Linked DNA regions of Homo sapiens. The protein of the gene in region 1 purifies or fractionates together with the protein of each later gene. This does not show direct contact. Each region holds a gene or a part of one and is shown in the gene's direction. Other genes may lie near its edges.

The links. The genes of interacting proteins can lie anywhere in the genome.
Region 2: the proteins of XRCC4 (region 1) and MOV10 fractionate together in Homo sapiens (co-fractionation; one large-scale study listed by BioGRID). This does not show direct contact.
Region 3: the proteins of XRCC4 (region 1) and KIF3A purify together in Homo sapiens (affinity purification with mass spectrometry, with the first as the bait; one large-scale study listed by BioGRID). This does not show direct contact.
Region 4: the proteins of XRCC4 (region 1) and WDR48 fractionate together in Homo sapiens (co-fractionation; one large-scale study listed by BioGRID). This does not show direct contact.

What each region holds. Positions count from the first base shown.
Region 1 is NC_000005.10:83,203,047-83,206,546, forward strand, and holds part of XRCC4 (DNA repair protein XRCC4), read left to right. Parts: intron 1-505; coding exon 506-661; intron 662-1,768; coding exon 1,769-1,875; intron 1,876-3,500.
Region 2 is NC_000001.11:112,677,659-112,681,158, forward strand, and holds part of MOV10 (helicase MOV-10), read left to right. Parts: intron 1-3,500.
Region 3 is NC_000005.10:132,703,047-132,706,546, reverse strand, and holds part of KIF3A (kinesin-like protein KIF3A), read left to right. Parts: intron 1-87; coding exon 88-96; intron 97-2,927; coding exon 2,928-3,084; intron 3,085-3,481; coding exon 3,482-3,500. UniProt on the Homo sapiens protein: Microtubule-based anterograde translocator for membranous organelles. Plus end-directed microtubule sliding activity in vitro. Plays a role in primary cilia formation. Plays a role in centriole cohesion and subdistal appendage organization and function.
Region 4 is NC_000003.12:39,055,016-39,058,515, forward strand, and holds part of WDR48 (WD repeat-containing protein 48), read left to right. Parts: intron 1-3,500. UniProt on the Homo sapiens protein: Regulator of deubiquitinating complexes, which acts as a strong activator of USP1, USP12 and USP46. Enhances the USP1-mediated deubiquitination of FANCD2; USP1 being almost inactive by itself.

The sequences.
Region 1 (3,500 bases):
TGTGTGTGGTGCTCGCTTATAAGAATATAACTGGATAAGTCGTGTTCTTGTTGTGGAGCAGTTTGTTGTCTAGTAGATAAATCAGACAAATTAGCTATGTTGCCTTATCACAAAATAAGATTGTAGTTGCTTTTATAGTAATATTAACATAGTACTGAGGAAACAGGCTACATTTACTCTTGTTTGAAATTTATCCCATAAAAACATTCTTTTGTAAATAAACCATATGTATCAATAAATTATCTTTAGGCATTTTGATTTTCTAAAGGCTTATTTGTATCAGTTTTCAATTTTGATCCTTATCTCAGTAAATAAATTACATTAATAACCAATAATTTCTAATTGTGTATTTAACCATCTTTATAAAACTTCCAAGTCAGTGAAAGCATATGTGAAAATAATCTTTAATTGTATTTTCCTTGAAATCTTCTTGATTATTAGGCTGAATTATGTTAATGCTAAGCAGAACTGCATGACTAATTTGTTTACTTATTTACTTTTTTAGATTTGAAAAATGTGTGAGTGCTAAGGAAGCTTTGGAGACTGATCTTTATAAGCGGTTTATTCTGGTGTTGAATGAGAAGAAAACAAAAATCAGAAGTTTGCATAATAAATTATTAAATGCAGCTCAAGAACGAGAAAAGGACATCAAACAAGAAGGGTATTTTCGCTATCTTGTTTTTGGATGACAGATGAATACATTTAAGTGGAATTTCTTCCCAAAGTTAATGAACATTAGATGCCAACTTTTTGATCATATGAGATAATTTGGTAGTCTGGATGTGGATGTTCAGGCTGTTAGATAGGGGTACCATGGGCTAGAGAGTTCTCAGCATGGTCTCTCTATGTCTGCTCAACTGTGTCACCTACACTTAAATTAAAAAACTGACATGAGGCTTATTAAAGTATTATTTAATTCTTAGACATTAGTAAGACATACTAATTTAAAAAAAAACTTTCATCTGCAGAACTACAAAAGTTGGATGCATATTTGTAATCTTGATGTCTAGGCAATGATTAACTTTAGAATCAAGTGGTTAATATTAAATTCCAGGGAGCACTTATTTTATCTGATTAGAGTGTGATTATCAGTTTTATTCTTCTTTCACATATTCTCTGAAAGTACATATGTACTTGATTTTTATGGAAGAATCCTAAGTGACAAATGGCTGATACGGCTTTCGACGATTATAACTTTTTTACGCATTAGCAAATACAAGTTAGGGTCTGTTGCTTTGAATCTTAGTAGAAGTACAGAATTACCAGTGACGTAGTATAAAAAAATTTGATATCAGCTAGTCCTAGCACAGGTACTGGTCTTGCAGTCATACCTATTAGTTTATAGCTTTGGACAAGTCACTTTATCTTCATAATAAAGGTAAAGATACCCATCTTAGGGTTTTGCAGAGATCAAATGAAATGCGAACTGTTCTGAGATTAGTAAAATGTTAAATACTCTGTGACTCACAGAGATAATTTGTTAGAAAAAGTATTTTGATGGAAGAATAGTACCTGATAAGAAACTGATTTAATATTAATTATAATAAGTACTAAATTCAGATTAAAATTAGGTAAAAGAGAAACTTGTTCTTAAGAGAGTTAATATATAGGTTTTAAGATGCTTTCATCTAAATCATATATATTTTCAATATGTTTGTCTAATTAGAATCTTTTTCTAGGAATATTTTCTATAATTGCTTACTGATAAATCTGCTGCCTAGCAGGGGGTGAGCCAGTTATTTATAATTCTACCTTTCTCTGTTTCTAGGGAAACTGCAATCTGTTCTGAAATGACTGCTGACCGAGATCCAGTCTATGATGAGAGTACTGATGAGGAAAGTGAAAACCAAACTGATCTCTCTGGGTTGGCTTCAGGTAAGAGATACATACATTTATCTCCTCTGTTGAATATCTTATTTGGGCTTCTTATTCTAATGACAAGAAACCATAATGGAAAAATGTTGTGAAAGACCTTATTCTATGAAAATTCTTTAGCATTTTTATTTTAAAAACTCAAATTTTTAATGTTAAAACTTAATATTATTTGTAAAATGCAGCAACTCATTAGCACAGCAGTGTGAGCAAGCATTCATACACATATACTCCAAGGTATACTATTCCTGGTTAAATATAACCAGGAAAAGCATAAGCAATGAGGAAGAAACACCTTTATGCTAAATATCATCAGCTTAAAGCTGGTTGCCTTTAACATTTGAGATCTTATTTAGCTAAAGCCATGAATAGGCCACTGGAGCAGAGTAATCAAGAATGCTCTAAATTATACTGAAGTTGAGGCCTTCTTTCACTCTTCAGAAAAAAGATTGCAACAAGTGAGATGTAATAGAGGAAAAGAGAAGGGGAAAAATGGCAGTTTAGTACAAAGTACCTATGACTTACTCAGTCCTTTGGATCAAGTTCCCAGCAAGTGTTTAAACCCATGAGTTATTTTTTAAAATGTTTTATAGATTTCCTAGTGACGGTGGAAACAGGAGCCTCTGAACTCATTTTATACTTAGATGGTTTTGACCTAAAACCAATACTATTAAAATAAATGCTTGATTTATTTATTTAGAAAATATTTTTGAGTTCCTATTATGTACTAGAAACTTTGCTATGCATTAGACAGCAAAACACAAAAATCTGTGCCATTGTGGAGTTTAAATTGTAGTCAGGGAAACATATAAGATGAATAAATATAAAATATGTTAGGTTGATAAGTGCTAAAGAGAAAAATAAACCAGAGAAGGCGTTAGAAAGGTCAGGGTGAGAATAAGGATGAGGGTTATGATTTTAGCCAGACTATCAGAAAAGGCCTCAGTGAGAAGGTGAAGGTGACATGCTGTCTTGGGGAAGACCATGCCAAACAGAAAACAAAAACAAAAACAAAAACAAAAAAACACTAAGTACAAAGTTCCTGACGCGTTTAAGCAATACTATAGAGTGTAATCTGGATAAAGTAGAAAGATGAAGACTGGGAGAATTAGGAAATGAGATGAGAGAGATGATGGGACCTCATCACGTGTAGGGCGATATAGGCTACCATTAGAACTTCTCCTGTTACTTTGAATTAACTTGGAAACTACTGAAGGATTTTAAACAGTCAGGTGACATAATCTGACTCAAATTTCAAGAGGATTAGTCTGTGTATTGTGTTAAGAATAGACTATAGGATGACAAATGCAGAAGAAGATATAACAGATGGGAAGCTAGTACAACAATTCGGTGAAGGATGAGGCTGGCTTAGACCAGAGTGATGGAGAGGCGATGAGCAAGGAGCAGATTCTAGGTGTGCTTAGAGGCAGCAGGATTTGCTGATGAAGGGGTTATGACTGAGCAAATAAGACTGAGAAGGAGCAGCCAGGAGGTAAGAGGCAAAAATATAAATGTGGTATCCTGCTGATTGATGGATTTAGCAATACAAACGTTATTAAGGATCTTAATAGAACATATTCACTGGATTGGTGAAGGAAGGGGATAGGAGAGAATAGGAGTTTCAAAGG
Region 2 (3,500 bases), on another chromosome or scaffold:
CTGTCTGCAGTCCCCAGCATAGAGCTTTGTATGTAGTAGATGCTCAATAAATGCTTGCAGAATCTAAGTGAACTAGCAACTAGAGTTAACTAACAAGAGAATGGGCCATATAGCGGGGGGTATAGCAAGTCACACTCTTTAGGAATTCTAGGAGATTCCTACACTGAGAGGGGATAGGTCTCTCCAGCTAGGTTATTTTATGATGTTATAAAGTGCTCTGCTCTGAACTCTTGCCTTTTCCCACCTACCTTTATTCATTTAGCAAATATAGTTAATGAGGCTCTACTGTGTGCCTGTGCCTTGGTCCTTGCCTCCAAAGAATATAATCTAGTAAAGAGCAGCAGATATGTGTAGACAAACAAATGCAATACAGTAGTATAGGTGCTAGTAATGGTGTTTAGATAGCCCTGCCATTTAGTGGTTGCATTTAACTTTGAACAACTCTCTAAATTTTCCATTTCCCCAACTGTAAGAGTATGTAAAATAGTACCTTTCTCTCGGGGTTGTGAGAGACCAAAATGAGTTGTCCTAGGCAAAGCATTTGTGTGGCTAGCATATTACACTGGCTTTGTTAAGTGGTACCCCTCATTAGTGCGATGATGATTAGGAGTCCATTGTATGGGGTAAGGACTGATGTCACGAAAAGGTTTCTGAGAGAAGATGATTCTTGCTTTGGACAGGAGACTCATTCTTCTACAAGTACTGGCTGAGTGCTTCCTATGAATGGCAAAGCAAAAGTGAGTTGCTAGAAATATACAAAAGGAACCCAACTAACTAAGGAAGGAGGCAGCAGTTAGATAATTATTTAATTACGGTTGTGATGAGTGCTTGTACAGAAAAGTCCAGTATGCATTGAGAGTATATAATTTGGAGATCTGTCCTAGTCTAGCAACCTAGACTAGATCAAGAAACTTAGGCAGAGGTTTCTTGGGGAAAGTGATATTTGAGTAGAATCTTGAAGGATTAATGGGACTTAGAAGGTGTAAAGGGCAAGGGTAGAGTGTACAGGCAGGAACAGCACCTTCAAAGGCTTGGGATGACCTCAGAAGAACGGGAGACCAGCAGGGCCCTGGGTAGGCATTGTGAGGTGTTTTGTTTTGTCTTTAATCTTAATGGAAATAGGAAAACACAGAAAATTTCAAAGTAAGAGTCTGACGTAATCAGATTTAGAAAGATCATTCTGGCTTCTGGCGTGGAGAGTGGCTTGGTGGTTGGACCTCTACCCACAGTAAAAAACACATTTTACTTTGGGACCTGGCATACACAACCTTCACAAAACAATGCCTGCCCTTGAAACAATACATAGTTTCACTCCCTGCTCTCTGATATTTTTTATTCTATTTTATTTCAATTTTATAAAAACCCTGGCTTTGACCCGCTAATGGGAGTTGGAATCCATAGTCTATAGATTGTGAAACTAGATGTCTCTTTAAGATCACTTCCAAATCTGATCATATGTGCTGAAATACCATTCCTCTAGCTTTTGGCCTTTCCTGAACTGGGTCTAAAAAGATTAGCCATTGTTCACCCAACAAACAGCAGGGGCGGCCTAAGGCAGGGCAGTGCAGGCTAAGGATGTCCACAGCACAGAAGTCTGCAGAGGGGCACAGTGATACAAGTAGTTGGGAATGGCTGAAATAAGGATGGATTGACAAGAGGCCAAGTGTGGTTGAGGATGTGTACCTCAATTTCTTTTTCTCTAAAATGGGATGATAATAATTACTACCTCAAAGGGTTGTTTTGAGGATTGAATGAGATAATGCATTCAGGAAACGTTTTCTGTTGATGTTATTGTATTTGCATTATCGTTGTTACTATGGAGGATCTTGGAAGGTGCCATATTAAAGACTTAATTTTGTGGACTATGGAGTTGTAAATTGAGGGAACAAGATCAGATTTGTGTTTGATGACAATTCTGCAGATATAGGGGGTGGCCTAGTGTAGGGGTATGAAGCCAGAGGTAGGGAGAACAGTTAACTGGAACCTAGAAAATTGAGCAAGGGGTATGATCAGGCAGCTCACAGAAGAAATATAAATGACTAATAAAAGAAGGAAAGATCCTTGACTATATTGGTGATCAGAGAAATGCACAGTTTAAAAAGATAGGAGTTTTTGTAATCAAATTGTCAAAAATTTAAAACATTGAAAATTTCTGATGTTAGAGCTTTGGGAAAAGGGCATTTTCTAACTCTTGTTAGTGAGAACATAAATTTGTACAACCTGTTTAAAGGACAATTTGGCAGAACTTATCAAAGTTGTAAAGGTTCATTCTCTTTGACCCAGGTGTTGTACTTTAAGGAATTTATCCCATTAGACTTGCCTACAAGTACAAGGGTTTGTGTGCAAGGATAGTTATTGTAACATTAGGAGTAGCCAGAAATTTCAGGCAGCTTGTCTATCACTAGAGAAAAAAACACACCATGATGCATTCATACATGCTATCTTTTGTAGCCATTCAAAAGGTCATGGTGGTTCTGTAAAGCATTGTTATGGGAGAAGATCCATGGTGGGAAGACGCCTGCTGCAGAATAGTATGTGTAGCATGTATCATCTCATTATTGTGTTTTATATGCATAGAAAAAAATCAGGAAAAACATACATCAAATAGTGGGTTTAATTAATTGCTCCTAATCAAGCAAGTAGTTGGAAGCAAGGGAATTAAGGGCTTTAATGTTTTATGTTAGATACTTGTTTAAATGTTTTAAAAATACTTTTGGGCCGGGCGCGGTGGCTCACGCCTGTAATCCCAGCACTTTGGGAGGCAGAGGTGGGCGGATCACGAGGTCAGGAGATCGAGACCATCCTGGCTAACACGGTGAAACCCCATCTCTACTAAAAATACAAAAAATTAGCTGGGCGTGGTGGCGGGCGCCTGTAGTCCCAGCTACTCAGGAGGCTGAGGCAGGAGAATGGCCTGAACCCGGGAGGCGGAGCTTGCAGTGAGCCGAGATTGTACCACTGCACTCCAGCCTGGGCGACAGAGTGAGACTCCGTCTCAAAAAAAAAAAAAAAAAAAAAAACTTTTGGTGATCACCTTTTCATTTATCTCTTTTTTTTTTTTTTTTTTTAAATCTCTCTCTGTCACTTAGGCTGGAGTGCAGTGGCACGATCTCAGCACACTGCAACCTCCACCTCTCGGGTTCAAGCAATTCTCCTGCCTCAGCCTCCCACGTAGGTGGGATTACAGGCGTGAACCACCATGCCTGGCTAATTTTTGTATTTTTAGTAGAGACGAGGTTTCACCATATTGGTCAGGCTGGTCTTGAATTCCTAACCTCAGGTGATCACCTGCCTTGACCTCCCAAAGTGCTGGGATTACAGGCGTGAGCTACTGCACCCGGTTCATTTATCTCTTTTTGCAGGCATGCTTATATCACACCTACATAAGTTTACACACGTGGGATCATTATCACATATCATTTTTATTGTGGACCCCTCCCCTTATGGGCATCCAACCTCCATTTCCACATTCCGCCCTGTACTCAGGTACCTCTTGATAT
Region 3 (3,500 bases), about 50 Mb from region 1:
AGAGAAATAATGTTTTCCTTTTTTTCCTCCTCATCTCTGTGCGTATTGCTTCCTGTCTGCGATTTGCTTACTACTTCTTATTGCAAGATCAAGCAGGTTGGTGTGATTGATTTGCACTCCACATGGTACAATTATTTATCCTATAAAGAACTATGTTATTTAAATACATTAAATTTTTAAAATTTAGTAGTTTTTTTACCAGGTAAGTATCTATCTTTTGTATTTTTAACAATCTTTCAACTTTAGCTTTTAAAAAGAACTTCATTTTTTTCCCTAAATTCTTAAAGACTCATTAAGCCAAAGTTTGGAAATACAAGTGTAAATTATTTCACATTCAAACATTTTTCTCCTTTTTTCTTAAAGCCAAGAATCAAATACCTGGTTATGCCGTGGTTGCTTATGTAATAAAAATGAAATTAATTCAATTAGGACTGCCCTGAAGTTCTTCCCCTTTGACTTACCCTGGCCGGTTAACGTTCACAATATTGGTTAGAGCACATGGCAAAGGGCAATAAAAAAATGTTGCTACTTATGTCTGGTTTAGTTAAATACTGTTTATGGCATTAACTTTTAAAAATATTTATTTACCTGAAATTTTGTGCTGAATTTTATCATGCATTGTTAGAAATAGATTTCTTTTTTGTTTGATTGGTTTAAGAAGGTTTTTTTAAAAAAAAGTCCTTTGAAAAATACATATAAAAGTGACTTTTACTGATGTCACATTTTTAAATACCTGGTTAGGAGAGTTAGCACATATTCACATTTAGCTTAAAATATTATTTGTGGAGAAATATAATGATTTGTCAGAGTGATTCTGGCTAAAGTAATATGTTACTTAAATATTAGGCTTTTGAAACTAACCCTGGCTATATATCTTTGATTGTCTTCATGAAAGTGTTACAAGACCACAATAAGATTTTTGCTGCTAAAGTATCAGTTTGGAAACATACCTGAATGGTTTTAAATTACTAATGTAATGCATTAATGCATGAACAGTTATGTGTCTTTGTATTTCCACATGTAAAATCTTTTTATTTAAAAAACTTTTTATTTTACTGCTTCTTAATGGGTTTTGAAACTGTTTTTAACTATTGAAACAATTAGAACCCTTGAAGCCTGTACATACTACTGTTCATATGTTGATTAGATCATTTCCTCTATACTGTTAGCATCAGTGTCTTCATGCATTTATTATTTTTGTCTTAACATATGTCCCATTTTGTCTTTAAATATTTATAATTCTCAGGTGGAAAGGAAGTTACACTTTTTTAAATGCGTATACTTACTATATACCTGAACTGATACTTTTCTCCTTCAAATTTCTAAGACATAGTATGACTGATGGGATAAGTAGTTTGGGAATAGTAGTTAAATTATTTTAAAGTTATTTTTTAACAGCTAATTCAAAAGATTCAATACAGATGACTGTGCCAAACAAGCCAGTAAATAGAATCAGTCTACATCCTGACTTTTGGAATGCAATGAATCACACCACACCAAAGCATGAATTTGGATCAGTGCTTTTATTTACTCTTTTATTTCATTTGTCTTGTGTCTTAGGTTTGCTCTGGACTTACAGTTCTATACAAATAATGTATTTTAAACCCTAGAGTTTTTTACATAATTTTGTCATAAAGAGTTAAAGCCTATTAATGATTCTTCATTTCATAGTTCCTGAAAAAATATACTCAGTTATATATCTCCATCATAATTATTTTTCAGTTCTTTTTCCTTGTTAGGTGGTGGGGGTTAGCTTTTGGGTGGAGACATTAACAATTTATACACTCTTATGATTTACACTCTTCTTCTGTAGTTCTTTGGGAAGGAAGTTAAGAATGACGGAAAGGTTCTAGGAGAGCCTCAGACCAATTCTGTGAAAAGTGTTATTGGTTTTCTGAAGGAATGTATGTTTCTAAGAAACTGTATGACCAGAAATGAATTGTCTTTGATTCAGTTTCATCACCAGTTTAATAAGCTAGTTTTATTTTCTCTTTTTCATTTGGATTTTGTTATTTTGAAATTCATTAATAAACTTTCTTTGAGCACCTATTACATGTATGTAAAATACTTTATTAGACATTATTAGCAAAAATAATCAATTGGAAGCCATATTCCAGCTTTATTATTTGGTAGTATTTCTACTTATATTTGACACTTGGCATGTTTACTCTGACTTAGGGAGCCTTCGGGTCCTGAGTTTGACATAATAACAAGCTATTTTAGTTGTTCCTTTAGTGTATGATGATATATCTTGACAGCTCAGCAACTGTGAAATGCTTGGTTAATTACTGTGTATGTAACTGTTACATAATTACATAGTATAGAATTTTTTCCTTTAAAAGTATGCTGTGAAATAAAATACTTTAATGTTATTAAACAAAAATTTTAGAAAAACTCTGAAAAATATATTAAAACTACTTGATGTAAATTCTGCCTGATATTTTCATCTGTGCATTTTATACCTATATATGACTTTTATTCACTTGTTTTATGTGAACTTGGGGAAGATATTTTAAGGAGTCGCTTGATTTTATACTTGGTTATCAGGAAAAAGTAACTGAAGAATCATGTTGCTTTTTTTTTAACCTATATTTGTTATCTGGGGACATATATATTTTTTAATTTGGCTTTCCTGTTAATCTTTCTTTTCCTATTATTTAGCTCATCTATTTTGCTTCTCTTTCGCTTTTGTTCTTAGTTATCATTGTACAATTGGACAACAGTTTGAATTTAGCAATGAGTTATAAAGTTCTAGGAGCATAATAAATGGAAATGCATGATATTATTGGTTTGATTTCCTTAAAATATTGATAATTGGTTTTGTATTATTGAGGAGTGTAGGCATTTCTATATTGAAGGAGGTAATTTATATAAGTCTGAAACATTGATTCATTTTAGTGATTGTTGCAATTAAATGATTCAAATAGGAAAAAAGAAAGTCTCCCCAGACAAGATGATTGAAATGCAAGCAAAAATTGATGAGGAGAGAAAAGCACTTGAAACAAAGCTCGACATGGAAGAAGAAGAAAGAAACAAGGCTAGAGCTGAATTAGAGAAACGGGAAAAAGATCTTCTTAAAGCCCAGTGAGTATTATTGAATTGAGATGAATTCATGATTTAAATTTCTGTTTTTTCCTAGGATATATAAAATAGGAAAATTGAATAGTAATTAAAAGCTTGGATTTTTGTCTCCAGTGTAGCTATTTTGGATAGAAGGGTCCATTGTATATAGTGTATTTCTAAAAACTAGATCTATTTTGGTTATTTTATTTCCGTGTGATAGGAAAACATATCAATGAATTAGAATGAGTTATAAATTAAGTTAGAAATCGATACTACACAGTGGTGTAATTTGGCAGAGATGTTACATAATTATATTTCTATTTTGAAATTGTATATCCAAATTTTAAATTTTGGGAAATGATATTAGTAGAATAATAGATCATCAGTGAATATAGAGTATTCTCATTCTAATCAACAGACAAGAGCATCAGTCTTTG
Region 4 (3,500 bases), on another chromosome or scaffold:
ACATTATTTGCTCTTATACATCAAAAAGAAAACTTCTCATCTTGGAAAAAGCATACATGGGTACTTGGAGTAAATATACTTTGTCTCCTGACTGTCTCAGACCACGAGACAGTAGCCCTGAGCTCCTTGTCAAGTTGTAGGCCAAGACAAACCCTTGAGACTTAAAAATATTGCTAAATAATCAGTGGAGGCCAGGCGTGGTGGCTCATGCCTGTAATCCCAGCACTTTGGGAGGCCAAGGTGGGCAGATCACTTGAGGTCAGGAGTTCGAGACCAGCCTGGCCAACATGGCGAAATCCCGTCTCTACTAAAAATATAAAAATTGCCGGCATGGTGGCGCATGCCTGTAATCCCAGGTACTTGGGAGGCTGAGACAGGGGAATCGCTTGAACCCAGGAGGCGGAGGTTGCAGTGGGCCGAGATTGTACCAGTGCACTCCAGCCTGGGTGACAGAGCGAGACTCCATCTCAAAAATAAAATAAAATGATACTTAAAATCAGTGGAGAGGGGTCCAAACATACTGCATATTAATTGTAGACATAATTTTAAATGAGTCCATGTCCTACCATCTTCAACTTCTAGGAAAACTAGAGATACGAGGGAAGAGGGATGGATTTGTGACTGTCAGAAACATAATCAAATATGTGAATTCAGATACATGATGTAGCATTTTCTCTGGTAACCAGGATATCAAAGCAAGTCTTTTCCATCCTTAGCAGTCCCTTGGTGGTATGATTTTCCAGCAACCTGAGTCTGTTGATTGGCTCTCTGTGCCTCCATTTTTCCTCCTGTTATGGCCTCTTCCTTCAGTGCTTCACAGTGCTTGGGGAAAAAAAATACTTCGCTTAACTTGCTGCCACTTCTAGTTAAGCTCTTTCCCCAGCTAAATGCCAAGAGGACTTTTGTGCTCACTACCGTATCCTCAGCATTTAGAATAGTGCCAGGCAACAAGTGGGTGCCTAGTTAATATTCGTTGAAAGAATTAAATCCATTTTCCTCTATTTTTCTATAGCCAGACATTTTAAATTTTTTCTCTGTACTTTAATGGATGCAGATAACAAGTTTTTAAGGTGACATGTCTTGAAACATATCAGCATATATAGTTTTCGTTCTTTAATGACCACATAGAATGGATGTACCATAATTTGTCTAGCCATTTCCTTATTGAAGATATTGCTTTGATTTTTTTTCCATCATACTATAATTTGCTTTGAAAAAACCTCCAGTTATAAAATAGTAAAGGAAGTGTTACAAAAATAAATGAAAGGACAAAGATAGATAATACAGAATGCATAAAAGATGAGGGATCAGTTTGAAAGTTCCAGTATCTGACTCATTTGAGTTCAAGAAAGAGCAAAGAAAACAGAGATGATGATTAATAATGGATACAAGAAAATTTCCCGGAGCTTAAGTGCCGCAAATTTCTAGATCGAAGGGGCTTTCTAAATGCACAGAAAAACTAATGATAGAAAAAACAAACAAGAAATGTCACAACACCAAGGAAAAAGAGAAAATCCTGAAAGCTTAGGGAAGGAGATGACGAGGGAGTGGAGGAAAGAATGAAAATAGGATCCCTTTAAAGCTGTATGAAACAGAATGGCATTGAAATCAGTGGCAACATTGGATGCTAGAGGAACTTACAGCAATGCTTTCAAGAGCTGAGAGAATTGCTAAATCAAGTGTAAATGTGGAGGAAAGACCTTTTCAGGCATGCAAGGACTAAGTTGCCAACCCATGTGCCTTTTCTTATATTACTTTCTTAAGGTATTGGGGATGTATTTCAGCAAAACTATGGAGTGAACAAAGAAAGAAGGAGGCATTAGAATTCAGGAAACAATGGCTGTAACCCAGAAAAGCAGTAAAGGAAAACACCAAAGGTGACAGCTGTGCCAGCAGATCTAGAGGGCAGTCAGCCTAGATTGTAATGAGAAGAAGGAGGGTTTGGAGGGGGAAGCCTTCTGAGAAAATAAAGGGGTGGGGGTGAGTTCTGTGGTACAGCAATTAAAATTGAAATTAAAGTGGAGAAAACCATTGAAGAAGGAAAAATTAAAACTCTAGGGAAAACAAAAAGCTCTTTGAGGAAGGAAATGTATTCATAATATAGTACTTAGTAGATAGCCTTACAGTCACAACAATATAGCACGGATTATTTGTTCAATTAAAAATAGGGATGTATCTATATTAGAAGAGTAGAGGGAGGAGATATTGAGGGTAGTTTCAGAACTACATCCTAATCTACAGTAGCATGAGTAAATCGATAATGTCTAAAATGGATGAGCCAAAAAGTTATAGGATAAGCACAATATTTAGAGAAATGCAGTTAACTATCCAGTAGCAACAACTGAGTTGCAATTAGTTACCTTTAGGGATGAAGACTAGGTGTGGGAGTCTTATCCAGACAGTAGAGAGACTGTTTTTCATTACAGTCATTACTATTTGATTTTCTAAATACAAGCAGGAATTACTTGGATAACAAATGATCAAATTTTAAAAACTAAGTAATACATGTTGTTTGTAAAACATTCAGAACACATGAAAGAGACATGAATGAGTGAAAAATCACCATAATCCCATCATTCAGAAATAACTGCTGGTTATTTTATTTTATTTTTATTTTTATTTTTTTGAGACATTGTCTCACTCTGTCTTAAGGCTGGAGTGCAGTGGCACCGTCATGGCTCACTGCAACCTCTGCTTCCTGGGTTCAAGTGATTCTCCTGCCTCAGCCTCCTGACTAGCTGGGACTACAGGTGCGCACCACCACACCCGTCTAATTTTTGTATTTTTAGTAGAGACGGGGTTTCACCATGTTGGCCAGGATGGTCTTGATCTCCTGACCTCGTGATCTGCCCGCCTTGGCCTCCCAAAGCTGGGATTACAGGCATGAGCCACTGCGCCTGGCCCCTGGTTATTTTTATATATGTATAGTCTTCAAAACTTGTGTATTTGTTCTGAAATATTTAATATTTTGAAACATTTTTATAATAATGACTATTGTACATTGTTGTGTTGGACCACACATATTTCACTAAAAATATATCATGGCTTTCCGCCCATGTTTATCAGTCTAGACCTCCATCAACTCTTTCTTATTCTTTAGAAACAGGGCTCTCATGCTGTTGCCCAGGTTGTAGTACAGTGGTGCCATCATAGCTCACTGCAGCCTCAAGCTCCTGGGCTCAAGCAGTCTTCCCACCTCAGCCTCCTAAAGCACAGAGATTACAGGCATGAGCCACCACACCTGGCCTACATCAACATTTTAAGTGATTGAATAGTGTTGTGTTTTACAGATGTGCGTGCTAGAATTTATCCAACTAGGATACTTCTAATTCTTTTGCATTTTAAAGCACACGTCTTTAGGAAATACCGTTGAAGAGGTTGGCCCAGACTGGTTTTAACAGTAATTACTTTCCACCTAGAATGAGAATTCTGACATTCAGGTTATTCTTTCACTCTTGCCTTAACCAGTCAGATAATCTCCCAGAAGTCTGGATATCAAG